7 linked regions of the Homo sapiens genome follow. The protein of the gene in region 1 purifies or fractionates together with the protein of each later gene. This does not show direct contact. Each region holds a gene or a part of one and is shown in the gene's direction. Other genes may lie near its edges.

Evidence for each region.
Region 2: the proteins of ACKR3 (region 1) and ATP5PO purify together in Homo sapiens (affinity purification with mass spectrometry; 4 studies listed by BioGRID and IntAct, with this or other methods). This does not show direct contact.
Region 3: the proteins of ACKR3 (region 1) and KIAA2013 purify together in Homo sapiens (co-immunoprecipitation; one large-scale study listed by IntAct). This does not show direct contact.
Region 4: the proteins of ACKR3 (region 1) and FIRRM purify together in Homo sapiens (co-immunoprecipitation; one large-scale study listed by IntAct). This does not show direct contact.
Region 5: the proteins of ACKR3 (region 1) and BMPR2 purify together in Homo sapiens (co-immunoprecipitation; one large-scale study listed by IntAct). This does not show direct contact.
Region 6: the proteins of ACKR3 (region 1) and INTS12 purify together in Homo sapiens (co-immunoprecipitation; one large-scale study listed by IntAct). This does not show direct contact.
Region 7: the proteins of ACKR3 (region 1) and FADS1 purify together in Homo sapiens (co-immunoprecipitation; one large-scale study listed by IntAct). This does not show direct contact.

Annotation. Positions count from the first base shown.
Region 1 is NC_000002.12:236,579,418-236,583,675, forward strand, and holds the end of ACKR3 (atypical chemokine receptor 3), read left to right. Parts: intron 1-1,022; 5' UTR 1,023-1,048; coding exon 1,049-2,137; 3' UTR 2,138-2,937; downstream 2,938-4,258. UniProt on the Homo sapiens protein: Atypical chemokine receptor that controls chemokine levels and localization via high-affinity chemokine binding that is uncoupled from classic ligand-driven signal transduction cascades, resulting instead in chemokine sequestration, degradation, or transcytosis.
Region 2 is NC_000021.9:33,908,646-33,913,373, reverse strand, and holds part of ATP5PO (ATP synthase peripheral stalk subunit OSCP, mitochondrial precursor), read left to right. Parts: intron 1-974; coding exon 975-1,085; intron 1,086-4,162; coding exon 4,163-4,292; intron 4,293-4,728. UniProt on the Homo sapiens protein: Subunit OSCP, of the mitochondrial membrane ATP synthase complex (F(1)F(0) ATP synthase or Complex V) that produces ATP from ADP in the presence of a proton gradient across the membrane which is generated by electron transport complexes of the respiratory chain.
Region 3 is NC_000001.11:11,920,796-11,924,191, reverse strand, and holds part of KIAA2013 (uncharacterized protein KIAA2013 precursor), read left to right. Parts: intron 1-702; coding exon 703-1,556; intron 1,557-3,396.
Region 4 is NC_000001.11:169,797,899-169,802,626, forward strand, and holds part of FIRRM (FIGNL1-interacting regulator of recombination and mitosis), read left to right. Parts: intron 1-958; 5' UTR 959-1,020; coding exon of another isoform or gene 1,021-1,060; intron 1,061-2,984; coding exon of another isoform or gene 2,985-3,007; coding exon 3,008-3,073; intron 3,074-4,722; coding exon 4,723-4,728. UniProt on the Homo sapiens protein: Regulates PLK1 kinase activity at kinetochores and promotes faithful chromosome segregation in prometaphase by bridging kinase and phosphatase activities.
Region 5 is NC_000002.12:202,564,012-202,568,701, forward strand, and holds the end of BMPR2 (bone morphogenetic protein receptor type-2 precursor), read left to right. Parts: 3' UTR 1-3,738; downstream 3,739-4,690. UniProt on the Homo sapiens protein: On ligand binding, forms a receptor complex consisting of two type II and two type I transmembrane serine/threonine kinases.
Region 6 is NC_000004.12:105,697,801-105,702,528, reverse strand, and holds part of INTS12 (integrator complex subunit 12), read left to right. Parts: intron 1-2,257; exon of another isoform or gene 2,258-2,514; 5' UTR 2,515-2,523; coding exon 2,524-2,679; intron 2,680-4,728. UniProt on the Homo sapiens protein: Component of the integrator complex, a multiprotein complex that terminates RNA polymerase II (Pol II) transcription in the promoter-proximal region of genes.
Region 7 is NC_000011.10:61,799,496-61,804,223, reverse strand, and holds the end of FADS1 (acyl-CoA (8-3)-desaturase), read left to right. Parts: intron 1-456; coding exon 457-554; intron 555-764; coding exon 765-861; intron 862-1,112; coding exon 1,113-1,192; intron 1,193-1,297; coding exon 1,298-1,423; intron 1,424-1,761; coding exon 1,762-1,813; 3' UTR 1,814-4,597; downstream 4,598-4,728.

The DNA of each region.
Region 1 (4,258 bases):
GAGGGATTTCAGGGCCTTCCCATGGGCGGACTGACAGTAGAAGACAGCCCCTGTCAGTCTATCTGAAGAAATCAGTGCCAGATAACAATGGTACCCCGTGGCTGAATTCTGGCTGGGAGTGAAATGGTGATGGAGTGTTGGTCTCACCTCAGGTCAGCAGGGAAAACAGTTGGGAAAATGGTCAGCCCTCCTGAAATGCAGCAGGTGGTGATTTTTGTGTTTTGAGTCTTGGCACACCTTGCTGTTGAAGCAGTTGAACAAATAAAGGAATGGAAAAACAGGTGCTGACCCAAAGCTTGAGACAGCTGGTTGGTTGCCCTTCGTTGAAAACCACACGGCCAACCCAGAGTCTTCAGGTTTGGGGCGCAGTTAAGCTGTGGGGCACCCTGCGTAGGCTCACTGTGTTTCCAGAGGCTTTATGACTGCACACTGGGGCCGCCTGAGACCCAGGTTTATATGTGAATTTAGCAGACAAGTAAAAAGTGCTGAGTCACATTATAAATGCAAATTTGGAGGAGGATTTGAAATGCTTTCATTAAGACACCAAAGCAGGACACTTGTAATACAGCAGTGCCAGGAGAGGACAACCCTGCCATTCTTTGGGGACCTAGATAAAATGGCTCCACTGTCCCCTGCTGAGAGTGAGCAGGCCATCAGCATCGCGGTGGCCGGGGCTCAGCTGCCTGACGTTTCTTTGGCCCCTGTACTGTGTTGATTTCACACACTGGGCACAGCCATGCTGGCGGTGTCTTGAGAACACAGCCATGAAAAGATGGAGAAAGCAAACACAGTTTCTGTCTTGGAGCACCACATGGATTTAGATTCAGAGTATGATTTATTTTGTTTTGGAGAGTTTTATTATGAATTTTTTTTCTCCCTTCTTTGCAAAGACATTACAGAGCTAAACCCAAACAGCTGAGCCTATCAGGGCCTTGGAAAAGCATTTTTGCCTGAAACTTGAGTTTTTCCTAATGAAGTGACTTTCCTCTTCCATCTTTTTTGTTTGCTTGGTTTTCTCATAGGTCATTTGATTGCCCGCCTCAGAACGATGGATCTGCATCTCTTCGACTACTCAGAGCCAGGGAACTTCTCGGACATCAGCTGGCCATGCAACAGCAGCGACTGCATCGTGGTGGACACGGTGATGTGTCCCAACATGCCCAACAAAAGCGTCCTGCTCTACACGCTCTCCTTCATTTACATTTTCATCTTCGTCATCGGCATGATTGCCAACTCCGTGGTGGTCTGGGTGAATATCCAGGCCAAGACCACAGGCTATGACACGCACTGCTACATCTTGAACCTGGCCATTGCCGACCTGTGGGTTGTCCTCACCATCCCAGTCTGGGTGGTCAGTCTCGTGCAGCACAACCAGTGGCCCATGGGCGAGCTCACGTGCAAAGTCACACACCTCATCTTCTCCATCAACCTCTTCGGCAGCATTTTCTTCCTCACGTGCATGAGCGTGGACCGCTACCTCTCCATCACCTACTTCACCAACACCCCCAGCAGCAGGAAGAAGATGGTACGCCGTGTCGTCTGCATCCTGGTGTGGCTGCTGGCCTTCTGCGTGTCTCTGCCTGACACCTACTACCTGAAGACCGTCACGTCTGCGTCCAACAATGAGACCTACTGCCGGTCCTTCTACCCCGAGCACAGCATCAAGGAGTGGCTGATCGGCATGGAGCTGGTCTCCGTTGTCTTGGGCTTTGCCGTTCCCTTCTCCATTATCGCTGTCTTCTACTTCCTGCTGGCCAGAGCCATCTCGGCGTCCAGTGACCAGGAGAAGCACAGCAGCCGGAAGATCATCTTCTCCTACGTGGTGGTCTTCCTTGTCTGCTGGCTGCCCTACCACGTGGCGGTGCTGCTGGACATCTTCTCCATCCTGCACTACATCCCTTTCACCTGCCGGCTGGAGCACGCCCTCTTCACGGCCCTGCATGTCACACAGTGCCTGTCGCTGGTGCACTGCTGCGTCAACCCTGTCCTCTACAGCTTCATCAATCGCAACTACAGGTACGAGCTGATGAAGGCCTTCATCTTCAAGTACTCGGCCAAAACAGGGCTCACCAAGCTCATCGATGCCTCCAGAGTCTCAGAGACGGAGTACTCTGCCTTGGAGCAGAGCACCAAATGATCTGCCCTGGAGAGGCTCTGGGACGGGTTTACTTGTTTTTGAACAGGGTGATGGGCCCTATGGTTTTCTAGAGCAAAGCAAAGTAGCTTCGGGTCTTGATGCTTGAGTAGAGTGAAGAGGGGAGCACGTGCCCCCTGCATCCATTCTCTCTTTCTCTTGATGACGCAGCTGTCATTTGGCTGTGCGTGCTGACAGTTTTGCAACAGGCAGAGCTGTGTCGCACAGCAGTGCTGTGCGTCAGAGCCAGCTGAGGACAGGCTTGCCTGGACTTCTGTAAGATAGGATTTTCTGTGTTTCCTGAATTTTTTATATGGTGATTTGTATTTAAATTTTAAGACTTTATTTTCTCACTATTGGTGTACCTTATAAATGTATTTGAAAGTTAAATATATTTTAAATATTGTTTGGGAGGCATAGTGCTGACATATATTCAGAGTGTTGTAGTTTTAAGGTTAGCGTGACTTCAGTTTTGACTAAGGATGACACTAATTGTTAGCTGTTTTGAAATTATATATATATAAATATATATAAATATATAAATATATGCCAGTCTTGGCTGAAATGTTTTATTTACCATAGTTTTATATCTGTGTGGTGTTTTGTACCGGCACGGGATATGGAACGAAAACTGCTTTGTAATGCAGTTTGTGACATTAATAGTATTGTAAAGTTACATTTTAAAATAAACAAAAAACTGTTCTGGACTGCAAATCTGCACACACAACGAACAGTTGCATTTCAGAGAGTTCTCTCAATTTGTAAGTTATTTTTTTTTAATAAAGATTTTTGTTTCCTAAAAATGCATCAAGTCTCAGTTTTCAAAGTGTGTTTTGGCACTTGAATAGCACACATGATAATAATTCATGGATATATATGGCACACACAGGCCACCTGCATGAACATGCTCAGAAAAAGAGTGCTGCTGTAAAGCAAAAGCTACCAGGTTAACTTGTTTGAAATGATATAAAAAGAAAAAATCATTTGAGCACACTGCATGGTTTTTAAAAAAATTTTCAGGCAATAGTGTTTTTGGTGTGGGGGATGATTGCTAGGGTCCAGCTAGGAGAGAAGGCTGGCACAGAGAAGGTGCCACTTGCTTCTACTTCCTGCTGGCCAGAGCCATCTCTGTTCTGAACCTGTCTGAACTCTCCGTCCAGACAGGAGAGTTTCAGGGTGCAGGACTGGTGTCCTCATCTGTACCACCTGTGTGCTTCCAGGGCCAGTGGCACAGCCCCTTAAATCTCATCTGCTAAGGTAAACACCTCCAGGGGCAATATTTCCTATTGAGAGTTTTCATTTAAACCATGCCAATCAGCTACCCCCTTGAGGCCACACAATGAGCGAATCCCCAGCTTGCGCATGTCCTTACTAGTGGTTGGAAAGAGTGCTCTCAGAATGGCCAGTTCCTGCTGTGCCCTCTCTAACTCTACCTGGAGCCACAAGAATGGCGGAGACTTCAACAGACGAGTCAGCTGGGCAGGGGCTCAGAGAGGGGCTGGGCTCCCAGCACTGCCCTCACCACCTCCACCTCTGCCAAGACCTCTCTGCACAGAGAGCTGTTTGCCAACCCAAAGGCAGACCCAGATGCTCGTCTGACCTGTGGGCTTGGGCGCTGCTGCTAGGTTGGAAAGCACCTTGTGCAAGTCCTTGCCCCACAGACCCACAATGGGCAGCCCTGCAGTCCCCAGGGGCCCATAGACCGAGTGCACTACAGGGGAATCCTATTTCCTGCAAAGGTCTTCACAGCTTAGAGTTTTGAAACTAGGGCTGTAACTTACTGGAAATATGTTCTTGATACACATGTACATCCTCAGGTGCATATATACACCTGGTCTTCAGTGGGATTCTGGTCCGATAACAATGATGTAGATAGTGGGATAACAGCATACAAGAGGCAAAGATACCAAGAAGAAGGGAAAATAAGAGTAGGTAGGATGGCAACATGGAATCGGGAAAGTTCTCGACCCAAATATGTGTTCCTTGACGATAAAAATGGCTTGCATGTTTGCTGTGAGCCTTCTAGGGGTCAAGTTCAGGCAGAAATACACTTTTCCAGTAGTAAATTCAAAATGGGGAGGGGGAGGAGGGCATCAATTGCAGTCCACATGCTCAGCCTTGCAA
Region 2 (4,728 bases), on another chromosome or scaffold:
CCACCAAATCAACAGTGAGCCAGTCCGCCCCTTGGAAAAATCGTGTAAAGGAAAGATGATCATACCAGGTCTGTGTCCTTAATGAGCCCACGTCAGGTGGAATTTAGGAAGATAATTATCCTGTCCCGTCCTCATTACCAGCCCTAAATCTCAAATCAAATGATCAAAATCATTTCGTCCTTCATGTGAGACCTTAAAACTTCATAACAGTGTTAAGGAGTAACTGGTCTTCCCATTTTACAAAAGGGGAAACTGAGGCCCTGGGAAAATTTACCTGAGGTTACTCAGCTTAGTCCTAGAGCTGGACTGGAACTAAATCTTTCTCATCCAAGCCTGAGCTTTCCCACTACAACCATACAGCACCACTAAGAACATGTAGTCATACATTGATGGTAGAAAAAAAGTCTATAGTTTATTGTGAAAAATAATTCAAGCATCAGGTTTTTTTGTAAACTGCCAAAGGGCTCTGTTACACTGAACATCGATAGGGAGGCTATGTAAGGGAAAATGTGTAGTGTTAGTATGAAATGTATAAAAGTATACTTGTGTGTTTCATAAACACCTGTTTTCCTAGCTCTAACATACTCGAAACTGTCTATCAGTGTTCACAACCTCCCATACTTGAAACTAAATAGTTACTGAGTTCAAAGGAAACATAAGCTTATCTCAAAATTAAAGTACAAGTAATTGATAAAGGTATGTAAACCTGGAAGGGACTTTAGACAATGCCTACTAAGCCCCTCATTTTACAGATGAGGAATTGGAGGCTCAAAGATTGAGTGACCTGACCAAGGAAACATCGCTAATTTATTTGCAAATTGCCATTTAGGACAGCTCTTGAATGACATATTTAAACTGTTTTGTGTTAAAGAGATACATTTTTTAAAATATAAATTTTAAATTCTGCTCTTGAGAGTATACTATTAACTGATTTTCCTTTTTCTTTCCTCTCCTATTTCACCTTTTTTTTAAAGCCTCCTGTTCAGGTATACGGTATTGAAGGTCGCTATGCCACAGCTCTTTATTCTGCTGCATCAAAACAGAATAAGCTGGAGCAAGTAGAAAAGGAGTTGTTGAGAGTAGCAGTAAGTAGCTTTCCTATTCATTACATATGAAGTTCCTGTTTGTATATTTTTTCCTTTGGTTGTTTGTGCATTCCTAATGAGGTGTATCCTACAAGAAAAAACTGGGAAAAAGCCATTGTCTGTAAACACATTTTTAGTAATAATATTGGGTTTTTATTATAAGACATATAAAAAGAACAAACAGATACATATAAGGATATTAATATTAGGAACCAAGATTAGGGGCTAAGAAAAGGTAGAAATATAAGATTAAAATGGATGGTAATTTAGGAAAATTGCTATTTCAGAAGAGAATTTAAAAGCTACCTTTAAAAATCTATGCTTATAACTGGGCACAGTGCTCACGCCTGTAATCCCAGTACTTTGGGAGGCTGAGGCAGGCAGATCAGGAGGTCATGAGTTCAAGACCAGCCTAGCTGACATAGTGAAACCCCATCTCTACTAAAAAATACAAAAAATTAGCGGGACGTGGTAGTGAACACCTGTAATCCCAGCTACTCCGGAGGCTGAGGCAGAATTGCTTGAACCTGGGAAGCCGAGGTTGCAGTGAGCCGAGATCGCGCCATTGCACTCCAGCCCCGGACGGTACGAGACTCCGTCTCAAAAAAAAAAAAAAAAAAAAAAAACCTATGCTTATGGGCTAGGTGTTTAGAATATATTGTGATTTGGTTTTACTGAGAATTTGTTTTCATGAAACCTTTTCCTCAGGTTTTAATTGCCATATTCTATGCTTGTAGAATCAGAGGAGGCTCAGATATGTCTTACAGGTTGTTTTCATTTGGTAGAGATGCCTTTGCAATTGCCAGAACCCCAGAAGTAACCATGTAGACCTTTTCATTGTTTTGGTAAACCTCTTAATTATTTTGTTCCCAAAATGTGAGGGAAGAATAACAGGGTGGGGCGCGCTGGGCAGCAGAGTTAGTAAAGGGGCATGGGCTTCCCAGTAGTAGTAGAGGACTGACAGGCAAAGACTGTGAGGCTGCTGCAAGATGTTTTTTACTTTTTTTTTTAAACATGAAAAGCAGAATAAATAAACCGTATTACCAGAAGCCTACATTGTAACTGAATAGGAGAATGTCTGCTTTCGTTTTCACCGAATTTTCTAGTTAACAAGTTTCTACACATTCTGTTGCTTCCTTCGATTTTCTAGCGCCACCACTGGCAGTAAGGTCTGCATTAAAAAAGGTGAGGGAGACGCAGTCTGGTATATAGCCTCTTCAGAGGAAGTTTGGTTTTTTCTTCATTTTAAGATTCTTCATTCTTTAATTCACATATCTGCAAGTTTTTATTGTTTAGAAAAAACAATTCATAGGCCAGTTGTATAGAGTAATAATACTTACGTTCTATATTAATCATCGTATGTATAGTCTATAAGTATTACTGTTCTGTACTGTTTATGTTTTATTCATTTTTCACTTGAGCTTCTATTGGAACTTCCGTCTTAACAGGCAGAATAATTTTAGCTCCATATTCCTTCCTTGATCCATTTATCTCTGCAGATAATGCTTAAGGTCTTAGCTGGTGTGATAAACTCTTATGATTCTCTCAGAGCCCAGGAGCCCAGCCCTGTTGTTGGAGACATTTGGGGGAAGGGCATGCAGGAACAGACGGGGTCTCACACAGGCATTTTTGGAGGTGATGGTTATTGTCTGCTACTTGTCAGTTATGCCCATTTTAAACGGAAACAATCATGTTTACAATGGAGAGAATTACTTGGATTGTGGATATTAGAATAGAGTTTGTCTAAAGCCTGGAAGTCAGTCGAGACATGGAGAAAAAGGGAGGCAATTACCTTAAGACACTGAATATTAGCAGGGTTTTGGCACTAAGAGGGAAGGATGATACAAGGATACGCACTGTCCTCTGGATGATGCAGGAGACACAGATAAACATGAAAAACTAGGTAACCCAAATTCCAGAATGCTTTAAATCTGTATATTCCTGCATTTTTTATGGAAAAATGTCATTTCTGTGGGGTCACTCAAGTGGAAATGTTAGCATTGGATGATAGTATCTGACCAGTATCCTGGATCAGAGGCAGGATTCTGGCCAGGAGCCTGGGAGGAGGTGCTAGGAGCGTAATTGAAAAGCATAGAGAGGTGTGTTAACTGAAGGTGCTCAACTGGAAACTGCTGTTCGTTTGTTGGAACTCTGGAGCAACATGCTGGAAGCTGCACTTGGTCACTGAATTCAGACACTGTGATACAACAAAATGAGAAGAACGTTGTTTCCCATGATGGTTGTGCTCCTGTTTTATTGTCCACTCTGTCTCCCAGACTCTTTGGGGCCGCTCTGGCAGCACCAGAGGCCTCACAGAATCTGCTGGGTTCCCTGGACTCTGTAAGAGGCAGGGCCCCTCCAAGGGAGCGGTGCGGAGGCCTCTGTGGTCAGAGCACAGTTGTGAGGTCTGCACTCTAGAAATAGCACTGCTAGAAAACCAGACGACTCCTCTCTTAAATATATTAAAGTATGCAGTCTAATGAAGGTTTGGCTGTTTAGTGTTTTATAATCTTTCTTGAAAAGCAAAAACAAATTTAAGAAAGTTCGTACAGTATTTTTAAATTTTTTTGAGGAACATCATTCTATATAAAATCCTGGTGCAGTGCACAGTGTATTCTGAAAGGCAGTCAGAAAATTGTTTGATTATAATCTTTTTTTCATATGTTCTTCGGCAGTGCTAATTTAATTCATAAAATATTTAATTCATAAGAAAGTGTTTGTATGGCCGGGCACAGTGGCTCATGCCTGTAATCGCAGCACTTTGGGAGGCCGAGGTGGGTGGATCACTCGAGGTCAGGAGTTTAAGACCAGCCTGGTCAACATGGCGAAACCCCGTTTCTACTAAAAATACAAAAATTAGCGGGACATGGTGGTGCAGCTATTCGGGAGGCTGAGGCAGGATAATCGCTTGAACCCGGGATGTGGAGGTTGTGTGAGCCAAGATTGCGCCACTGCACTCCAGCCTGAGCGACGGAGCAAGACGTTGTCTCCAAAAAAGAAAGAAAGAAAGTGTGTGCATGGCACATCCTTCATTTGTGCTCTAAAAAATTTAAGAAATTATTTTTTGATGCTTTCAGCAAATCCTGAAGGAACCCAAAGTGGCTGCTTCTGTTTTGAATCCCTATGTGAAGCGTTCCATTAAAGTGAAAAGCCTAAATGACATCACAGCAAAAGAGAGGTTCTCTCCCCTCACTACCAATCTGATCAGTGAGTATTAGAACTTTTTCATTTGAGGTGTCTTGAAACTATGACTGGAAATGTGGTCCATGGACTGTGGGCGGCATCAGCATCACCTGGGAGCCTGTTGGCAGTGAAGAATCTCAGGCCTCACAGCAACCTGCTGAATCAGAGTCTGTATCTTAACCAGCTCCCTAAGTGAATCGTTTGCACATTGAAGTGTGAGGAGCATCGTCTAAAGGATACTAGGACCTAAGCATGTCTAATTGTATAGTCAGTAGTTTCAACTGTGGAGGCGGCCAGTGTGATACCTACCAAGAAAATGGTTCGTGGCCTGTGGCTATACCTTGATCCTTGGATACATTTGCATTCTTGGGTACATTTGGACTGCTTTTCTCTTTTTGAGACAGAGTCTTACTCTGTCACTCAGGCTGGAGTGCAGTGGCACGATCTCAGCTCACTGCAG
Region 3 (3,396 bases), on another chromosome or scaffold:
GCGCCCGGCGAGAGGATGGTCATCTTCACAGAAACAAAGTTGTGTGTGTGTATGTTTTTAAATCTTAGGGCTGTTGAATCCATCAGTAGCAAAGGGGCCCAGCACGTGTTTATTCAGCAAGTGTCTATTGAATGCTTCTGCCAGGGCTGTTTTAGGCATGGGTGGTGGCCTGCACCTGTAGTCCCAGCTACTCAAAGGCTGAGACGGGAGAATCACTTGAACCCGGGAGGCGGAGGCTGTAGTAACCTGAGATCGTTCCACTGCACTCAAGCCTGGGCAACACAGTGAGACTCTGTCTCAATAAACAAATAAATACATACATACATAAAGCTACAAGACTGGAGAGAGAAAGGACAGAGAGGAGAAGTGGCCTGAGACTGGCCTCAGCACTGGTGACTGATCTGGCGCAGGATGTCTGACCATAGGGTTGGTGCCAAGTCCTGGCTAAGTCTGTGTTCCTCTGGGCTCTGGCACCAGGCCCCGCTGCTTTTTAACAGGATTCTAGATTTCAGGCCCACAGGCTCAAGTTGGTCGTGTAAACAAGACAGGCTGACTTTCTTCTATACTTTAGGGAGATGGGCACCACTGTCTTTATCATTAAGGCACAACACCTCACTCTTCTGCTGCCCTTGGTCTTTATTTCGTATGCTCTGCCTCCCAGCTGTCCTTCCCCCTTAACATGCCGCTTTCATGGTGTTGCAGGAGTGGAAATGAAGAAGATCACTGACACCCACACGCCGTCTGGCCTCACCGTGAACCTGACGCTCTATTACATGCTCTCCTGCTCGCCAGCCCCACTGCTCAGCCCCTCCCTGAGCCACAGGGAGCGAGACCAGATGGAGTCGACGCTCAACTATGAAGATCACTGCTTCAGCGGGCACGCCACCATGCACGCCGAGAACCTGTGGCCGGGGCGGCTGTCCTCCGTCCAGCAGATCCTGCAGCTCTCTGACCTGTGGAGGCTGACCCTCCAGAAGCGTGGCTGCAAGGGGCTGGTGAAGGTGGGTGCCCCAGGCATCCTGCAGGGGATGGTGCTCAGCTTTGGGGGGCTGCAGTTCACAGAGAACCACCTCCAGTTCCAGGCCGACCCCGACGTGCTGCACAACAGCTATGCATTGCATGGCATCCGCTACAAGAACGACCATATCAACCTGGCCGTGCTGGCGGATGCCGAGGGCAAGCCCTACCTACACGTGTCCGTGGAGTCCCGTGGCCAGCCTGTCAAGATCTATGCCTGCAAGGCAGGCTGCCTGGACGAGCCAGTGGAGCTGACCTCGGCGCCCACGGGCCACACCTTCTCGGTCATGGTGACACAGCCCATCACGCCACTGCTCTACATCTCCACCGACCTCACACACCTGCAGGACCTGCGGCACACGCTGCACCTCAAGGCCATCCTGGCCCATGATGAGCACATGGCCCAGCAGGACCCCGGGCTGCCCTTCCTCTTCTGGTTCAGCGTGGCCTCCCTAATCACCCTCTTCCACCTCTTCCTCTTCAAGCTCATCTACAACGAGTACTGTGGGCCTGGAGCCAAGCCCCTCTTCAGGAGTAAGGTAGGAAGCCGCCATCTGGTCGAAACCCGAGGCCTTGGCCTTGCTCTCAGCCCTGTGTCTCGGAAGGGGCTAGCCTGGCGAGGGGGGGTGAGGCCTGGGCAGGAATGGGTGTCCTGATGCCCTCAGCCCTTGACACCAGAGAGCGCGCACAAGTGTTTTGAGAGGAGACGACGAGGAAGGGAAAGCTGGAAATCCAGGTGTGAATTGATGGTCTTCTGGCTTTCCAGGGCAGCCCTCCCCTCCTCCCGCATCATAAATCTCAGCATTTAAAAATAACTGCAAGCTGGGTGTGGTGGCTTGTGCCTGTAGTCCCAGCTACTTGGGAGGCTGAGATGGGAGAATCCCTTGAGCCCAGGAGTTTGAGGCTGCAGTGAACTATGATTGTGTCATTGCACTCTAGCTGGGGCAACAGAGCAAGACCCTGTCTCAAAAAAGCAAAAAACAAAAAAGCAAATAAAAGTAAAAAAAAAAAAAAAAAAAAAATTAGAGGCAGGGCCTGGTGGCTCATGCCTATAATCTCAACACTTTGGGAGGCCGAGGTGGGAGGATCCTTCGAGCCCAGTAGTTTGAGACCAGCCTGGGCAGGATAACGAGGACTTGTCTCTACAAAAAATTTAAAAATCAGCCAGGCGTGATGGTGCACGCTTGTAGTCCCAGCTACTTAGGAGGCTGAGGTGGGAGGATCACTTGAGCCCAGGAGTTTGAGACTGCAGTGAGCTGTGATTACACCATTGCACTCCATCCCAGGTGACAGAGTGAGACCCTGTCTAAAAATAATAATAATGAGGCTGGGTGCAGTGGCTCATGCCTATAATCCCAGTACTTTGGGAGGCTGAGGCGGGCAGATCACCTGAGGTCAGGAGTTCAAGACCAGCCTGGCCAACACGGTGAAACCCCATCTGTACTAAAAATACAAAAATTAGCTGGGCATGGTGGTGCATGCCTGTAATTCCAGCTACTCGGGAGGCTGAGGCAGGAGAATTGCTTGAACCCGGGAGACGGAGGTTGCAGTGACCCGAGATCATGCCAGTGCACTCCAGCCTGGGTGACAGAGTGAGACTCTGTCTCAAAAAAATAAAAAATAAATAATAAATAATAATAATAATAAAATAAAAATAACTGCAACAAGCCCCTAGATTGACTTGAAGCCTCTGTCTGAACTGCTGGCGGGATCCCCAGCTTCCCCCCATGTGCCTGTTCATGGCATGCAGAGGTCAGCCCCTTGCTCCAGGCCTCGGACCAGAGTGGCCATCTCGTTAGCATAGGACACAGGACAGAAGCATTGCCCTCAAGTTTCCTGAGACATGTTTGCCCCTGGAAGCGGTGATTTTGGCCATCATTGCTGCAAGACTGTCATCGGGGCAGCATCTTAGCATCAGCATTGCTGTCGCGGGGTGAGGCTGCCTACTGTGCCCTGCCGCCCGGCCTTCTGTGCTTCCTCAGGAGAAAGACCAGCAGGGATTCCAGGGGGAGGCCTTTGTTAGCAGTTGTAGAAGAAAATGTTTCCCAAAGAGCTGAGCTGTTTCCCTTTCTCTTCTCTCCTCCTGTATCCCGTCTCCTCCCCTCTACTCTTCCTCCCCTCCCCTCCCTTCTCTTCTTTTCTCCTTTATCTTCTCTTTTTAAACTGTAGTGACAGTAGAGAGGTATATTAGGCTCTGCGTCTGTGCCCCCAAGTAGTCAGAGAGCCCAGATCCCACCCTGGAGAAATGGGAAGTGTCCCATCACATCCACAGGGATGCCTGCGGCTTCTAGTTTCTGGCCCAAGACCAGGACTTGGAAAAGGAAGCAGAACTTGACCTGAAAGAGCAGAAGAGTGGGAGACAGGGCTGAGTTCCTCAAG
Region 4 (4,728 bases), on another chromosome or scaffold:
AAAACATTTCTAACAATTATTCTAACAATTATTCTTGATGGTGTATATGAAGAATTTATTGTCGTGTATTTGTAAGCTGCTATGTGCAGAAGAATTTCAGTCAAATAAAGTTGGTAAGATAGGTATGTAAGTAATATGAAAAAAGATAGAAGGTGATGAGTGACTTAGGTATAAATTAAGTACAATAGAAATGTTGAGGAAAGAAAAATTTCTTGTAATAGAAATCGGAAGTACAAACTGGGCATGGTGGTGTGCATCTCTAATCCCAGCTCCTTGAGAGGCTGGTATGGGAGGATCACTTTAGCCCAGGAGCTTGAGGCTGCAGTGAGGTGTGATCATGTCACCGCACTCCATCCTGGGTGACAGCAAGACCGTCTCTCTTTTTTTTTTTTTTTGAGACGGAGTCTCGCCTATGCTGGAGTGCAATGGCGCGATCTTGGCTCACTGCAACCTCTGCCTCCCAGTTTCAAGTGATTCTCCTGCCTCAGCCTCCTGAGCAGCTGGGATTACAGGTGTGCGCCACCATGCCCAGCTAATTATTTTGTATTTTAAGTAGAGACGGGTTCTCACCATACTGGCCAGGCTGGTCTTCAACTCCTGACCTCTTGTTCGCCCATCTAGGTCTCCCAAAGTGCTGGGATTACAGGTGTGAGCCACCCCACTTGGCCCCGAGCGAGACCCTCTCTCTAAAAAAAAATAAATAAATAAATCATAAACCTGTGGATTATTGTAGCATTGTTTCTCATCTGTCAAAAATATTTCATGACTATGCATAGTTTGAAAAGGCAAGTTTGTCCCTGGGCAATTTTCAAAATATTTCTTTAATGTGTTTTCACAATACTGTTTACCTAATAAATCTTAAGTTTTTAAAAGCAAAATTAAGCCAGTAATTTGAGTCCAATTCCAATCTCTTATGAGTCATTGCTTAAATTTCAAAAGGGTTTTATTTTTTTTTTAGGTTTGTTCTGAGTAATGAATACCCTATTACTATGATACTAGTATCTTCCTTAATTATCCTACTCATTGTCTCAACATTCTGACAGTTGGATTGAGCATATTCGTAAGTAAAATTGTTTTAACTGTATGATGTACTTTGATGTTAAGGTCCGAGTCCCCACATACCTCGGTAGATGTGTTCTTACAGTTTTGTATTCCCTTGAAATGTAACTGTTCTCTATGTTACAGCCTTTATAACCTTCAGTTACTTGAAATGAACAAATTCATTCAAATTCCAGCACTTAAAAGTTTTAAATTACATTTTGGATAAATACCAAAGTGTTTTGTTGATGATGTATGTATAAACAAATTGTAAATATTAAACGTTAGTTGTTACGATTAGACCTATATAAAACATGATATGCAGTCTACTGAATAGCTATCAGCCTCTAACATGTTTAGTGTCATTTAGAAAATGCTTTCTAAATTGCCAAAAGCTGATTGTCTAGGTGATAACAAATTTACCATTTGGAGGAAGTTGACTTTCTCATTTTCATGTCTTCATCAGTCTTACTTGATGAGATTCATTCTTCTAGTCAGAAGAGAGTTTAGACTGCTCAGTTTACTCATATTTTGAGTTAGCTTTTCTATTTAGAGTTCACTTGGTTGTGGAATATTCATTTATAATTTGAATCTACGTTGTGTAATGGGACCTAATTTTTTTTTCCTTTGTTTTTGTTGGAGTCTCGTTTTGTCACCCAGGTTGGAGTGCAGTGGCGTGATCTTTGCTCACTGCAACCTCCACCTTCCAGGTTCAGGTGATTCTCCTGCCTCAGTCTCCCAAGTAGCTGGGATTACAGGCATGCTTCACCACGCCTGGCTAATTTTTGTATTTTTAGTAGAGATGGGGTTTCACCATGTTGGCCAGGCTGGTCTCAAAACTCCTGAGCTCAAGTGATCCTCCTGCCTTGGCCTCCATAAGTGCTGGGATTACAGGCGTGAGCCGCTGAGCCTGGCCCCAGAGTTTGTTTTGTTTTGTTTTCAAGACAAGATCTCACTCTATTGCCCAGGCTGGAGAGCAGTAGTGCGATCATAGCTCACTGCAGCCTGAACTCCTGGGTTCAAGCTATTCTCCTGCCTCCATCTTCTAAAGTGCTGTGATTACAGGTCTGAGCCATGATGCTTGGCCTGTGTTTTTGTTTGTTTGTTTTGGGGGACAGGGTCTTGCTTTGTCACCAAAACTGGAGTGTAGTGGTGCGAACATAGCTAGCTCACTGCAGCCTCCATCTCCCACGCTCAAGCAATCCTCTCACCTCAGCCTTCCAAGTAGCTGAGACCGCAGGTGCGTGCTACCATGCGTGGCTAATTTTCTATTTATATATTTATTTTTTGGTAGACATGAGGTCTTGTCATGTTTCCCAGGTGGTCTTTAACTCCTGGGCTCAGACAGTCCTCCCGCCTCAGCCACCCAAAGTGTTGGGATTACAGGCGTGAGCCACCATGCGTGGCATAATTTTTTTTAAGTAAATTATTTTTTTATCTTGAGTATAGAAGTGATTCATGTTCATTGTGGAAAATATGAAACATATAGAAAAACAGAAAAGATTACAAAACATCTAATCTGAAATGGTTAAGATTTTGATGAGAACAGTCTCATCTCATTTCCGTATATTCCTGCCAGCCTATCCATCATTCTTCGTACATGTTTATCTACATTAAAATTGGTGTTATATTTTGGAAACTTTTTGTTTAACTACATTGTGAACATTTTTCATGTTTTAAAATGTCATTTTAATGATGGCAGATCCTATTCAATAGATGTACACACACCTATTTAACTGGTCCACAATTGTTGGATATGTAGGTCGTTTCCTTTCTCTCTTTTTTTTTTTTTTTGGCTACTACTTAATAGTTTCTCTGTATAGAATGTGGTATTTTGAAAGTGTATCAAGCTTTAGATTGGTAGTATTCTTGCATTTAATAAAGGGCAGTGGCCTTTGTTGACTGACATGACAATATTTTTATAAAATTTGTTATTTGCTTTACAGAAATTTTGAAAATTATTGTAGAAATGTTTTTACCTCATATGAACCACCTGACATTGGAACAGACTTTCTTTTCACAAGTGTTACCAAAGGTATAATACTATTACCTGAAAATACATGTTATAAGGAATCTAGCCTCAGTCTTAGATGATTTATTATTAATTATGGCTCTCTTTTTCTAATATATCAAATATATTCAAAATAAAAATAAGGAGTAAGTAGATCTCATGTGAGACTATAATGGTGTTAGTGTGATCATTAGGCAGTTAAAAACTGTTACAGGCTGGGCACGGTGGCTCATGCCTGTAATCCCAGCTCTCTGAGAGGCTGAGGTGGGCAGATCATCTGAGGTCAGGAGTTCGAGACCACCCATGGTCAACATGATGAAACCTCGTCTCTACTAAAAGTACAAAAAATTAGCTGGACATGGTGGCAGGTGCCTGTAATCCCAGCTACTTGGGAGACTGAGACAGGAGAATTGCTTGAGCCTGGGAGGCGGAGGTTGCATTGAGTCAAGATCGTGCCATTGCACTCCAGCCTGGGCAATAAGAGCGATGCTCCGTCTCAAAAAAAAAAAAAAAAAAAAAAGAACTTATATTTTCAGATTGTGTGGTTCCTTTACTAACTGAATTTAAATTATTTGTAGTCAATTTTAAATGCTCTTGTATTTTAAAGCCACTGTACTCCAGCCTGGGTGACAGAGTGAAACCCTTAATTCAAAAAAAAAAAAAAAAAAAAGAAAAGCTGGAATATTGGCAAAATCAAGTAACTAAGAGAAAACATTAAATTCACAGAATACATTATTACATTTTAGATATATATGGTATATGTTTTCTCTGAAAAGCACAAGCATACCTTTTTTGTTTTAAATGGAGGGAACTAAAGATACTTTGGTGCCAAAATGAAACATTATTTGTAATTAATCTCTTATTGAAATGGGTTTCTAACTTTAGCTTTGAATCGTAATCTTTCAAATTTCTTGTACTCATAGTCACTTGATGATTCTCTATCTGAAATATTTCTTAGAATTTGTTCTTGACCACCAGAAAAAGATTCAACTGTTACATAGATGAAAATGGATGTTGAGTGTTAACAGGCCTATGGGAAACAGTATTTTCTTTAGCTACATTGTATTGTTGACTGTGTTGCTATTCTTATAATGTTTAGGTCATTTAAATTGTTAGAAAGATCCAAGTATTAAGATCTAGGGTGGCTAACTTTTCACAGACAAAAAGCTTGTTTGTAAGGTCATTTACTATACCCTTAATTCAGGAAGGTTAGCTTGAATTGGGTCAAAAGGAAACTGGTTAGAAAATAAGTGAGTAGTGAATAGGCGATTCAGTGCAAATTCCTTCCAGAAAATACCCTTGTAAATGACTGTATGAATGTGGATTCTTCAAGACAGTCAAATTTATTGTGCGAAAGTAATACTTTTATTTTTTGCATCTCTAAAACATGAACTTTGAGTGATTTTTTAAAAAAATTGATGCTATTAAATAGATTCAAACCATAGAAATGGAAAATAAATTTCTGTTTGGGGCTTTTGGGGGGATTATGTTGTAAAAATACCTTTTCTCTGTATTTTGTGCTTAATTAGGTACAATTGTTAAGCTAGATGATAGCCTGTGGATGTTACTAGTGCAAAATCAAATTATCGTATTGTGTTTTCTCTGTAAAGTTTTGTCTTGTCTTTTCTAGTGATTTCTCTTATTCCTGTTTATTACTTGATTTGTTTTTACAGACTGTG
Region 5 (4,690 bases), about 34 Mb from region 1:
TGGGCTTCAGTGGGAATTATCACAAAACATTGGCAAGTATTTTTATTTAAATTATTTTCAAATTTGACTTCTACAGCCAAGTGGAATTGGTAGGCTGTAGCTGTTACACTGAAATTTCTAGTCTTTGTAAGTGCCTCCTGAAAGTCATTTAAAATGGAAAAATATTTCAATGAGCTTTTCCTTTTTTCATATTTATGGACATGAATATTTTATTGGAGATCATTAACTCCTAGAATTTGAGATTATATTTCCATACAACATTTTATAAAGTTATGTTGAACTTACTACCTGTTATGTGCAGGTTATTATGTAACTATTCACAGATTGCTTCATATATTGCTTTATCTTCCCATCTAACTTCTTAAAGTTAAAATCCGGACACACATGTTGATTATCTAGACCAGTCATTCTGGAAATTGTAACACTCCCACATAAACCCCAGGAGACTTTTTCAGAATGCAATGTTTCTAAATGTACTGTTACTGGCAGTTTACTCTCCAGCATATAAGGTTGCATTTTAACTTTTAGATTATGAACTGTGCAAACTTTACCCAAAACTATCTTGCATGATTCCCTCCTAAATATATTCCTTGATTAAGTAAATCTGGCAAATCACTGTTTGAGCTAGTTACATAAAATTTGTTATCAAGAGAAGGCTTTTCTACAAGTTTCCAGATTAACATAAAGAAAAGAGGGAATCACAGGGCATTTAAGTGCACCTTCCCATTACTTTCCTTAAATCACCTCATAGTTAGGCTGGGCGCGGTGGCTCACGCCTGTAATCCCAGCACTTTGGGAGGCCGAGACGGTGGATCACGAGGTCAGGGGACTGAGATCATCCTGGCTAACACGATGAAACCTCATCTCTACTAAAAATACAAATAATTAGCCAGGCATGGTGGCACGCGCCTGTAGTCCCAGCTACTCGGGAGGCAGAGACAGGAGAATCGTTTGCACCCGGGAGGCGGAGGTTGTTGCAGTGAGCCGAGATCGCGCCAATGCACTCCAGCCTGGGCTACAGAGTGAGACTCCATCTCAAAAAAAAACAAAAAAAATCACCTCATAGTTTATGTCTGACTTACTCCAAACCTCAGTTATCTGATTTGTAGTCTGTGTCAGGAAAGTTTTCTTCATATCTATTCTGTCTCCCTCCTCTTTGATTTTAAATTTTTTTCTTTTACCCAGTAGGACAAAAAAGAGCAGTTGGTCATCATCCCCAATATTCTTAGTCTTCAGTATGCTTCAGGCCTCTCAATGAACACTTAAGTCTCAATTCTTCAGACAAAATTGCTTAAGCTCTTCTCCTCAGTCCTATTTTAATGACTTTATATTTAAGAATATAGAATTATATTTTCTTTTATATTCAAATTCATTACTCCAGTTAAGTAATAGTTTGATAGTTTGATAGAATCGAGAGTTAAGATGTTTCTATTTGAAAGTGGATTCAACCATCAGACCACCAGCAAATCGGCACTTAATTTTTGTGTTATCTAACATTTTCTATTGTGGAATTTTATGATTTTATATTCTCATTAGTTATAACTAAAAAGCCATGCACACAGAATTGTATATCATTTTGCCATTAAAATTTTTTAACATATTGCAGCAAGCTTAGTTTTATGATTGAGCCACAACCTTTTACATATTTTTTGTATGAAATATTAAACACTAAATGCAAGATTAACTTTCAAAAGCAAACCCTACATTAATCAGGTATTATCTATGGACATTTTTGTAGACCACTTTTGAAATACTTATTATTTTGCAACATAGACTGGACTATACAACTTTCATTTAACTTTTAGGTGACTGATTTAAGTTGAGTGTGCATATAGAGAAAAACCTAGAAATTTATCTCATGGCAGATACATTTGAAAGTACTTCAGAAGAATTTATGCTGTATATTAAAACTAGGCTCAAAATAAATCTATCGTATCTTTAAAAGTCCAATTCTGTTATTACTGTGATGTTTGTAGTGTTACTATTAAACATTGTGAACATACACATTTTTAAAACAACTTGAAACCCATTTTAAAATCTGGGTAAGAGAGAAGGAATCTTCAGAACAAAATCACATCATTAGGGTGTCCAGTTTATGATTGAATTTTTAAGCAAATTACTGTATTTGAAACTACAACTTGATTTGGTTTTCAGTTTTAAAAGGCAACATGTGGGTTTTATCCATTTTATTTATACCTTTAGATTTCAGAAACATCTTCATGTTTTAGATGCATTCTACAGACATCATGTTACTTAAAAACTCAGGGCCCCTTTCATCCCTTTGTACACTGAAAAAGTTCAATTGTTAGCAAGTAAGCAATTAGATCCAGTTGAATATTTAAAGTGTTTGTTGCACAGTTCATTTAATGTTTCATCTTATTTGACTTTTTCACATAGATATAATATCAGATTTCATTAATTATAAAAAGTTGCCCAGTTCTGTAATTACTGAACAGAGGGAATGACTCAACTAATTGGCTACATGTTGCAACAAATTTAGGCCTTTAGAGTTGAAGCACTGACTTAAAACGACTTACATTTCTGTTCTTTGGTCAAATGACCATACATGATATGGGACAAATTGTTTCATTTTGTTTGTTTTTTAATAAGGGAACTTGGTAAAGTAGTTCCTGTCAGATAGGATTTTCTCAAGAGACAATTTAACGTTATAAAGCCTTCTAAAAGTGAACTAAATATTTTATAACTTTAGTAATAGCTTGGATGGTTTTGAGAAAATAACCTGTATTTATCACATTGTCAAACAGAATTTTTCTTTGAATCAGACAAGTTCAAGCTCTAAATTGATGTGCTATATACTTAAAATCCTAGGAAGTTATCTGTAACCAGTCTCTTGTCTCAGGCTCTTCACCTTGTTACCAATCCTCGTAAGTATGTAAAGGAAACATATTTTTAAAGAAGCTTAACAGTAAGAAAAAATTACTAAAAGATGCAATTCAAAGATAGGTCCCAGTTTAACACTGAATTGCTTGACTTCTGTGGCTTTTCTTTTTCTGGCCACATTTATTTATTTAAGCAATTTTTGTATGCCTTGTTATTTCATTTCCATAGAGATTATATTGTATCAGTGTTTATGTAAGCTGGAATCATCCTCAGTTTTTTGCTGATAATTTTTCAAATAAAGATACATGGATAATTGTAAAATACACTAACTCTTAGGGTGTTGTAGTAGCTGAAACATGGAGATGCGTAGCTGTCATGCTTTTTCTGAATGGACAGGAGAAACATAAGCTACGGAGTATTCACTTCTGAGGATGCTTTTCCGGAAAAAGAAAGGCTAGAAAATACTCGCACTTCCTCAGAACCCTCTTTCTTGTTAACGGGTATCTTTTGTTGGTGTGTTTTGCTCTTACATTACAGATAGACTATCATATATGACTTTATGAATAATTTCAGTTATTTTGCTTTTGTATAAGCTGTCTGAAGCCTTGCTATGCTGTATAAGTTGTGTTTGATGGATCAGTGTGAGTATAAAATAAAGCAAATCACTTTTCTTTTGTATTATCTATGGATGCCACTATGAAAGCTGACATTAAGCCACTAAAGAGTTTTCTATGAATAAGTGTAAGTAAATGCTTTGATATATATAAACCTAAATAAAAAGATTGTATTGATACAGAGACATTGGAGAAGGAGATTTTAAGGCAGTTCTTTAGGTTTAAAAAGGCTTGCTGTAAAATGGTGCGTTATTCCGTTTATTAAAGATCATATTAATGACAATAGTAATTGTGTTTTTTTATTTTAAGAGGTCACCAGAAATTGTTAGTATGATAATTAGGGAGTTTGCACTAGAATAGTAAATGTTCTATCTAATATGACTTTCATAACTCAGTATGATACATCAAAAAATAAAAAATAAAAAAAAATAAATAGGCCGGGCGTGGTGGCTCACGCCTGTAATCCCAGCACTTTGGGAGGCCGAGGTGGGTGGATCACGAGGTCAGGAGATCGAGACCATCCTGGCTAGCACGGTGAAACCCCGTCTCTACTAAAAATACAAAAAATTAGCCGGGCGCGGTGGCGGGCGCCTGTAGTCCCAGCTACTCGGGAGGCTGAGGCAGGAGAATGGCGTGAACCCGGGAGGCGGAGCTTGCAGTGAGCCGAGATCGCGCCACTGCACTCCAGCCTGGGCGACAGAGCGAGACTACGTCTCAAAAAAAAAAAAAACTAAATTTAGTATAATAGTTGCTATTTTCTGACCATGTATTATATGCCAGGCACTGTGTTAGTTATTTTACATACATTGTTGATAATTCTCACAACAATCCTACATAATATGTATTACTATCCCCCTTTTATAAATGAAGAAACTGAAAGAGAAATTAAATACTCTGCCCAGTCACAGAACTGGCAAGTGAGATTGTAACGCATTTTACGTTTTGCTTTGAACTGCAATTTTCAAGCTCTCCTTGTGGCAAGAGAAACTCAAAAATAAAAATAAAACTGGCCGGGCGTGGTGGCTCACGCCTATAATCCCAGCACTTTGGGAGGCCGAGGCAGGTGGATAACGTGAGGTCAGGAGTTCGAGACCAGCTTGACCAACATGGAGAAACCCCGTCTCTACTAAAAATACAAAATTAGCTGGGTGTGGTGGTGCATGCCTGTAATCCCAGCTACTCGGGAGGCTGAGGCAGAAGGAGAATCGCTTGAATCCGGGAAGCAGAGGTTGTGG
Region 6 (4,728 bases), on another chromosome or scaffold:
GCTCCTTGAGGTTAAAGATCAATTATATAACACACTATTATCACTCTGTATATGAATAGATTTTTAAAAAATAAATAGAAATAGAAATAAATTGGCTGGGCGCGGTGGCTCACGCCTGTAATCCCAGCACTTTGGGAGGCCGAGGCGGGTGGATCACAAGGTCAGGAGATCGAGACCATCCTGGCTAACATGATGAAACCCCGTCTGTACTAAAAAATACAAAAAATTAGCCGGGTGTGGTGGCGGGCGCCTGTAGTCCCAGCTACTCGGGAGGCTGAGGCAGGAGAATGGCATGAACCCGTGAGGCGGAGCTTGCCATGAGCCGAGATCATGCCACTGCACTCCAGCCTGGGCGACAGAGCGAGACTCTGTCTCAAAAAAAAAAAAAAAAAAAAAAAGAAATAGAAATAAATTAAAAAGTTAATATTTTTTTCTCTGTATTCCACCATGGGGACCACTGGGTCAAAGGGCCATGTTAGTAATTTAGGGGAGGGGTACAAAGCCTGTTAAGTTTTATAATGGCAAGATTGCATAAAAAGAACTGACTCCAAGGTTCCAACTGGAATGTTGGTGTTGATGACTTCCGCAGTCTTGTAATCTAGGTGCTGACTCTTGTCACCTAATCTGTAATGTAAACCTCTTACCTGTGATTGTAGAAATACATAGCAATAAATACTTGGCTTTCATTTTTCAGCATAGAAATTTCAAGAAATGGTTTTTCTAATATATTACAAGGGTTCTTTTAGGTGTCAACCCTTTGGTCAGCACCCAATAAAATAAATTGTTTTATAACAATCTGGATAAGTAAACTGCTATTTCCTTTACCTATATGAAATAAAATCAGTAGAAAGATTAGTAAACTGTCACAGGAGTGGAATTTAAAGAAAAAAAAGAGATTAGGCTGTTACCCTTGTATATGCTGGGGGAATGGCAGGTTTACCCTTTTAATCTTGGAAATTTTATTAAGGAGCTATTTTTTCCTCAGAACGTACATGGTGACCAGCCCCATGAGTAAATTTTAAAATAATTTTTCTGTACCTATCATTATGTAGAGGTGATGTATATAATAATATAATTTTAAGAAGTGACAGAGGCTGCTTTTCAATTTTGTTAAATTCTTAGAAATACAACAGTTTGAGATAAGGTTACTTTTTCATTATAGTACTGGCCTTTGGATTCCTTTCCATGGGTGATTCAGATGATATTTTAGTACAGTACAGAATTCGACAGTAATTTTGTAGTTATCAGGTAGATAACTAATACCTTCCTGGGAACTTAAAAAAAAAAAAAAAAAAGCCTAGGGATGTGTATGTGTGTTTCTTGTCAGATGTGGAGAAGGATGAGGAGTGAAGCTGGAGGGGAGGGGACAACAAAATCCATTTTCAGATGTGCTTTCATATGCTAGGATTCAACCTACAGCAAGTTTTAATGGTGTTATAAACCCCTGAAAATGGGAGATAACTGTGGAATTGCTGACAGTTCCCTAACTATAGCAATGCAAGTGTGCTGCATTAATACAATATTAACCTCAAGGATAGAAGATTTCAAGCCATAGTATATTGATCAAAGGATTGAACACAAAGAATACATTTTTATTTTGATAATTTCTTGCCTGGAGAGGTCTTTGAAAAAGTGACAACCAGAAGCAGAACCACATGATAGCATTGGTATTAACTAAAAACAAAACTTTTTAGTATTGTGGAATTTCATAAGCCTTTGATGTATATCTTTATCCATCTTGGCTATTTTTTAAGCTCTTTAGGACACAAAGCATCATAGGCTCTGTGTGTGTGTGTGTGTGTGTGTGTGTGTGTGTGTGTGTTTTAAGTAGATATGATATTATCCCTCAGAGACCTTACTTTTAAAAATAGGTTAATGCATGAGATACCACAATCTAAATGTGATCAAATAAGGTTATCATTAATATGTTTTCTGAGACATTTAGGGTTGGGGCAGAGAACTGAAGAGGTGAGTTTAGAAAAAAAAAAAAAAAGAGTTGAGGTAAAAGTGGCAGCAGTGACCATGATAGCTAATCACTTAATATACCTTTTCACCATTGCCCTCTTACGATAGCCCTTACACACACAAACACCTGCACACTAAGTCTTCCCTTGTGTTATGGAAATAAGGTTTGAGAGAAGAAATTTTGATACAGAGTAAACTTGACGTAAACCCATCAAGTTCTATGTACTGAAACTGCGAAGTGTATCTTTTAAAACACAGTTAGGAAGGAGTTCTGTGGCAGGGAGAGGCCTACCTGGATTTAAAACGTTACCATCGATATGGATACACAGAAAACTGATACTGCTAGTTGTTTCAGGGGGAAGGAACTAGATAATGCCTGTCAGGAATAAGAAGGAAATTTACTTTTATTTGTAATAACTTTTTGGTGATTTTAAATTTTATATCATGTGTACAGTATTATCTATTACAAATTAAAAAACAGAAAAGTAAAACTTTAACATAGATAATTGTGCATTGTCTTCTAGATTACTTTCTCTTTTTTTCCTTCAGGCGTTTGCAATGGCTGCTACTGTGAACTTGGAACTTGATCCCATTTTTTTGAAAGCACTAGGTTTCTTGCATTCAAAGAGTAAAGATTCTGCTGAAAAGCTAAAAGCACTGCTTGATGAATCTTTGGCTCGGGGCATTGATTCCAGTTACCGTCCATCTCAAAAGGTACTTGAATGAATAAAAAGCTTGGAGAGAGTTTTGTAAGGCCTGTAGTACTACATTGATAACATATAGACCATCTCAAAACAATCTCTGCCGAAATAATCTTTCCTTGTAGCATGAAGAAATTATATTCTTTATTTTCTTTTTTCCCTTCAAGTTTTCAGAGAACTGTTACACCACATAGAAAAATCAGCTGGGGGTGCAGGATATTCTGTTCTACTACTTTATGTGTATATGAATTCACTTGTTTACGACTTACTTTAATTTCCGATTCTTTGTGATCAGAATTTTTTTTAAGCTGCTGAATGTAACCACAACTTACTTCTAATTATTGCCTAATATTTTAAGGATTAAAAAAAATCAAGTAAAAGGACAGATCTTTCAACAAAATAAATTGAATATGGGTAGGATAATTTAAGAGAAAAGGAGGTATGGATGAACTCTGAGAACTGTGTAGCTCCTGTCTTGATAATAACAAAGCAGCCAATGGCAGCTTTATGTGAAAAGAATATATGTTTTGATACCAAACACACCTGTTTTAAATCCCACTTAAATCTTATAATTGTGTGATGATAATAGACAACGTATCTTGATGTCCCAGGCACTTTTCTGAGTAGTTTATGTGAATAATTAATTTTAATTATGATAATGATCCTTTAAGATAGATAACTGTTTTCTTCATTTTACATAAGGAAACTGAGGTACATAGAAACTTCATTTCACTTAGTCTGTTTATTGGTAAAATGGGGATAATAAGAACTACTTTGCAGAGTTGTAAAAATTGAAGGAGATCCAGTAAATGAGTTACCTAGTGTAGTACCTGCCTGGTACATAATAGGCTGTCACTGAATGACAACTCTTATTATATTCCCTAATACCTACTAAGACATTCTATCAAATCCTTCTAAGCTCTGACCCTCAAACTCCAAATCACTCAGGTCTGTGGACTTAGATCCCAAACTGAGAAGGAGAAAATAGAACATGACTAGCTCAAGTCTAACCAGAATCTGAAGCTCAAGAGAGGATCTAGTCCCAGGCTCAGAGCCCAAGTAAACACTGGCATTTTGTCCCCAGCCTTCTTTCAATACTAGGTCTAGTACTCCGAAGCCTTTTTATTGTATTTTGAATAGCAGAACCATTGTGACTTCATTTCTTCTATCCATTCTCATTGCAGTAGGTTCAGTGAGTTCAGATCGACCAAATCAATATGGCTCTACAAAACATACTACCAAATTCATTCCACTGTGGGTGTTGGTATTGTCCAGATAGGGAAACCTATTATTACTAAAGAAAAAAAATTGTTTTAATGGGGTTCTAAAATGGAAGTTTATCTCTTAAAGAACATGAAAAATTTGTTGTGATTAAAAAGCACGCTGCCCTTAGGTTTCTAGCTAGAGTTCATTTCTCTTGATCAGTTTTCAGAAACTACTTTGTTATAGGTTTTTAAAGCCCAGGTCCATTTAATTTTAGCCTTCAGCTGAATATTTTCATCACTAGATTTGTGTAAGAAGAGTGATTTATGCCAGTGTTTCTCAAACTTTAGCATGGATAAGAATCACCTGGAGGTAATGCTTACTAACATTACCAGGTCTCCAAGTGTATTCTAACATGAATATTGGTTGATATTCATTTACATTAATGAGGAAGGCAAATGTGAAATAATGGAGTTAAAACTTAACTCATCCGTCAACAACTAGAACAACTTTTTTGCTGAATTAGGTAATAGTTTAATACTGCATGACTTTGTCTTCAATTTTTTAGTTACACACAATACACGTTTTTGTTTTTCTGTTGTTTTTTGTTGAGACAGGGTCTCACTGTGTTACCCAGGCTGGAGTGCAGTGGCACAATCTTGGCTCACTGCGCTCTCTCCCTCCCAGGTTCAAGCAATCCTCCCACTTCAGCCTCTTGAGTAGCTAAGACTACAGGTGCATGCCACCATGCTTGGCTAATTTTTTTATATTTTGTGGAGACAGCATTTTGCCATGTTGCCCAGGTTGGTCTCAAACTCCTGGACTCAAGTGATCTGCCCACCTTGGCTTCCCAAAGTGC
Region 7 (4,728 bases), on another chromosome or scaffold:
GCAGGGGGGATGAACTCTGAGCAGAGAAGCTGGAAATGAGGGGTAAGTTTGACCACCAGACATATTGTGGAGGACTAGTGTCAGGGGAAGAGTATGGTGCTTGGTTCAGTGATGAGAGATTTGATCAGGGCACTGGCATGGACTGAGCCATGGTCCTGGCAGATTCATTTGGCGGCATGCTGAAGGATTTAGATTGGCTAGGAAGAGCTAGAGGCAAAGAGACCTTGTAGGCCTTGGTACTTTTGAAGGGGACATGCAAGAAGGGCTGGGGGGTGCCAATGGGAATGGAAGAAAGGAGCAGTGGCACTAGATACTGCAGGATTGGACCCCTGAGAAGCTGAAGATGAGTGAGTCTGGATAACCAGGAGAATGGCTGCACCATGCAAACAAAGAGCTGCTGAGAGGAAGAGGAAGAGTTGTTCGTGACTGTTATGCTCGCTGCTTTTCTCACTATAGGACTTGGCCTGGATGATTACCTTCTACGTCCGCTTCTTCCTCACTTATGTGCCACTATTGGGGCTGAAAGCCTTCCTGGGCCTTTTCTTCATAGTCAGGTAGTATTCGGTGGGGGCGGATAGGGACTGGTGAAGGAAATGTTGGGGAGTGACCAGTCTGGTCTAGGGGCCGTGCTGGGGCTTTGGGTAACAGTGGGTGTTTCAGGAGTTGGCTTGGGAAAGTAGACAGGCTGGAGCAGTTATCTGAGGGGGGAATCAGAATTCTGGGCTCTGTGTGTACTGTTTTTGTCTGTGTAATACATCTAACAGGTTCCTGGAAAGCAACTGGTTTGTGTGGGTGACACAGATGAACCATATTCCCATGCACATTGATCATGACCGGAACATGGACTGGGTTTCCACCCAGGTAAGGGACAGTCACTCAGAAGACTGGAGCATAACACAACTATTGAAAAGGATGCGTAGGTGAAAACAGCAAAAACAAAAAGTCCCCCAAACAGCATTTTCTCATTAGCCTGAGGCTCTTGTTCTGCAACCATGTGAAGGGAGTGACCAAGACAGTCTCATGTCCCTTCCTCAGCCAGCTTTACCTGGAGAATGCTGGGCTGGCCTTTCCATCTGATATTCAACATGCTCTCCCCTGACCTTTTCCGCCAGCTCCAGGCCACATGCAATGTCCACAAGTCTGCCTTCAATGACTGGTTCAGTGGACACCTCAACTTCCAGATTGAGCACCAGTGAGTAGGGAGCCTGGGGAAGCAGGGTCCTGGGGAGGGTGTAAGTGTTGGGTACAGGTGGGAGCAGAGAAGCAGGAACCACTGACTCCCCCGTTCTCCCTAAAGTCTTTTTCCCACGATGCCTCGACACAATTACCACAAAGTGGCTCCCCTGGTGCAGTCCTTGTGTGCCAAGCATGGCATAGAGTACCAGTCCAAGCCCCTGCTGTCAGCCTTCGCCGACATCATCCAGTGAGTATCTGAGACCAGGAAGATGGCTAGTAGGGAGGGAAGAGGGCAGGGCAATGGAAATGATGACATGTAGGGTGGGGAGTGAACAGAAGGTGTTCCCAGTCGTGTGGGATGGAGTTCACCATGGCAAAGGCAGGATTCTTTATTGGACCTGTGGCCAGGTCAGGCCTTTGCCCTCATTGGGGTTCCCCTCAGTACCATGGCCCAAGCTAGCTTTCTCTAAAGTAGAGGGGAGGAAAACCTCCAGATGGAAGAAGGCCTTAACCTCACTGCTCCATCTCCGGTGGGTTCAACTCTGCTTGTCTCCCTCACTGTCTGCCCCCATTTTGTCCCTGCAGCTCACTAAAGGAGTCAGGGCAGCTCTGGCTAGATGCCTATCTTCACCAATAACAACAGCCACCCTGCCCAGTCTGGAAGAAGAGGAGGAAGACTCTGGAGCCAAGGCAGAGGGGAGCTTGAGGGACAATGCCACTATAGTTTAATACTCAGAGGGGGTTGGGTTTGGGGACATAAAGCCTCTGACTCAAACTCCTCCCTTTTATCTTCTAGCCACAGTTCTAAGACCCAAAGTGGGGGGTGGACACAGAAGTCCCTAGGAGGGAAGGAGCTGTTGGGGCAGGGGTGTAAATTATTTCCTTTTTCTAGTTTGGCACATGCAGGTAGTTGGTGAACAGAGAGAACCAGGAGGGTAACAGAAGAGGAGGGACCTACTGAACCCAGAGTCAGGAAGAGATTTAACACTAAAATTCCACTCATGCCGGGCGTGGTGGCACGCGCCTGTAATCCCAGCTACCCAGGAGGCTGAGGCAGGAGAATCGCTTGAACCGGGGAGGTGGAGGTTGCAGTGAGCTGAGATCACGCCATTGTACTCCAGCCTGGGCGACAGAGCAAGACTCCATTTCAAAAAAAAAAAAAAAATCCACTCATATAAAAGGTGAGCTCAGCTCACTGGTCCATTTCTCAGTGGCTTCTCCATCCTCATTTGCAAACCTCAGAGGGATAAGGCAGTTGAACCTGATGAGCAAGAATTATAACAGCAAGGAAACATTAATGCTTAGAATTCTGAGATCCAGCACAACTCAGTCTGTGGGAGCTCAGCTCGCTGCCCAGGGATAGGTATGACCTATGTCTGCCTTAGGCTGCTGGGAGATGCCATTCTCCAGTTTCAGAAGCAGGCAGGGCAAAGGTCAAGACTGTGGTATTGGGGTCTTTTGGCTCTGAAGGATCCTGGAACCACTGATTTTGGTTTATTCCCTCCAGGGTCTAAAGAGAACAAGAGGTGCTAGCTCTTACCAAAACAGATGGTAGAGAGAGTTGCTGGCTATTTAAAAAGCTCTTTCATCTTTTAATTCACCTCTTCTTTTCACCTCTTTAACCACTCCTCAGGAACAGAACACTTCTAGGACTGGGGGTCTTTTAGCTCCATAAGCAAGTGAGCAGATGGGACAAGTTAGTCTTTTCTCCCTAGAAACAAAGGGGATGCCCAGTGGTTTCCCTTTGCTTCCCAACCTAAAATTTCAAGTTTAATAAAATAGCAATTAGCAGAAGTGACCAAATTGGGAGATAATTATCAGTCATGAGGAAAGACACAGATTTCGGTCATAAAGAATGTAAGGGCTATAAGTAGAAACTTTCTATAACCTAAATGATGTTATAGAATTATTTTTGAGCAGGAGCAGAAAGATTAAATATGATCACTTCATACTTCTAAATCAGAAATAGGAAGATTAAAACCACAGAACAGTTTGTGATTTCTATTGCTGTAGCTAGGTATCTTACTCTGTCCACTCTTGTTCAAGTATCTAACTCTTCTGGAAACCAAATAGGCTTTAGAAGAGATTATCCTATATTCCTATCAGTATAATACTAAAATGTAACTTTTTAATCATCTGGTTTTTAAAAGATAAACAGTTTAGCCCATCTCTCCAGAGAGCAAACATAGGAATATGACTCAGGAGCCTCCTAGGGCTTATCATCAGCCCTCACACCCGCTTCCCCCTCCAACCCACAGCCTTTGCTTCCAGGTGGCAGGATTACTACTTTGCCTCTTCAGCAGCATCTACTCTAGGCATATTGATCATTTTAGACACTGGGAGAAGAGAACCTCAAACTAGGAGGAAAAGACAGAGCCTCCACTTAGTTTTGGGAGGGGATGGCAGACAGTCAAGGAGATGAGCGTCCTAAGGCATGTTGGGATAGGGTCAGATGCACCACCCATGGAGAGGTTTGTCAACACAAAGACATGGAAGGTTAGAGGTTTGTCAACAAAAAGACATGGAAGGTTAGGTTTGTCAACACAAAGACATGGAAGATTAGAGGTTTGTCAACACAAAGACACAGGAAGAATGGGCTGCAGAAGATTTAGATGTTTTCCATTTGGGCACATTTTACTTAGCTGGAGAACTAGGTTTAAAACAGCCTGGGTAGGAAAATTAGAAGCAAGCTGGATGCAGTGGCTCATGCCTGTAATCCCAACACTTTTGGGAGGTCCAGGCAGGAGGATCACTTGGGCCCAGGAGGTCAAGCCTGCAGCGAGCTGAGATCACACCACTGCACTCCAGCCTGGGGTGATAGAACAAGACCCTGTCTCAAAAAAAAAAAAAACAACAAAAACTTAGAATTGAGGAGTTGTACCTCCATTGGCTTCCTCACTCCAAAATAGGTGCTGATCCTTCCTATTCCTATTCTTTGCCACCTTTTGGGTGTGGTGTCACCAGCCTGTTTAGCCAAGTAGCTTTGGGCATAGGCTGCCCAATCTGAGCAAACACCAGTGAGGCTCTATTGAGCCAAGACCAAGTCCTCAAAGCACCTGAACCACTGTGGCCTTCTCAGCCTACAGCAGTGTGGTCTCTTACATGGCCACAAAGGGACACACAGTGACAAAAGGCTCGGAATGTTACAATGGTAAAATGAGTGATCTCAAATCCACTGACAGATATAAAATAGGCTTAGAGAGGAAAAGCTGCCTCTGGTCAAGTAGATCATGGCAGCATGAATTCCAACTCACTTTTTTACAACTCCAACTTCTATGTTTATCTTTGTTACTTTCACTTTTTTACAACCTGGCCAGAGGCATTTTTTAAATCAGGCCCAATATCAGTATTCTTTTTGTGTGTGCCAATTTTGTTATCACATCCCTATGAAGTTGAAAAATAAAGTTAATTTTGACCAAAAGACTTCATTTGTAACCCATGATGTTCATCTGTGTGTGCACAGGATTCCTGAGTGCCTCTGCTACGAGTTACTGTTCACCTCTCTGTGCTCTTAAGTTCTTGAATCACTAGACTCCCCTTTGTATTGGGCAG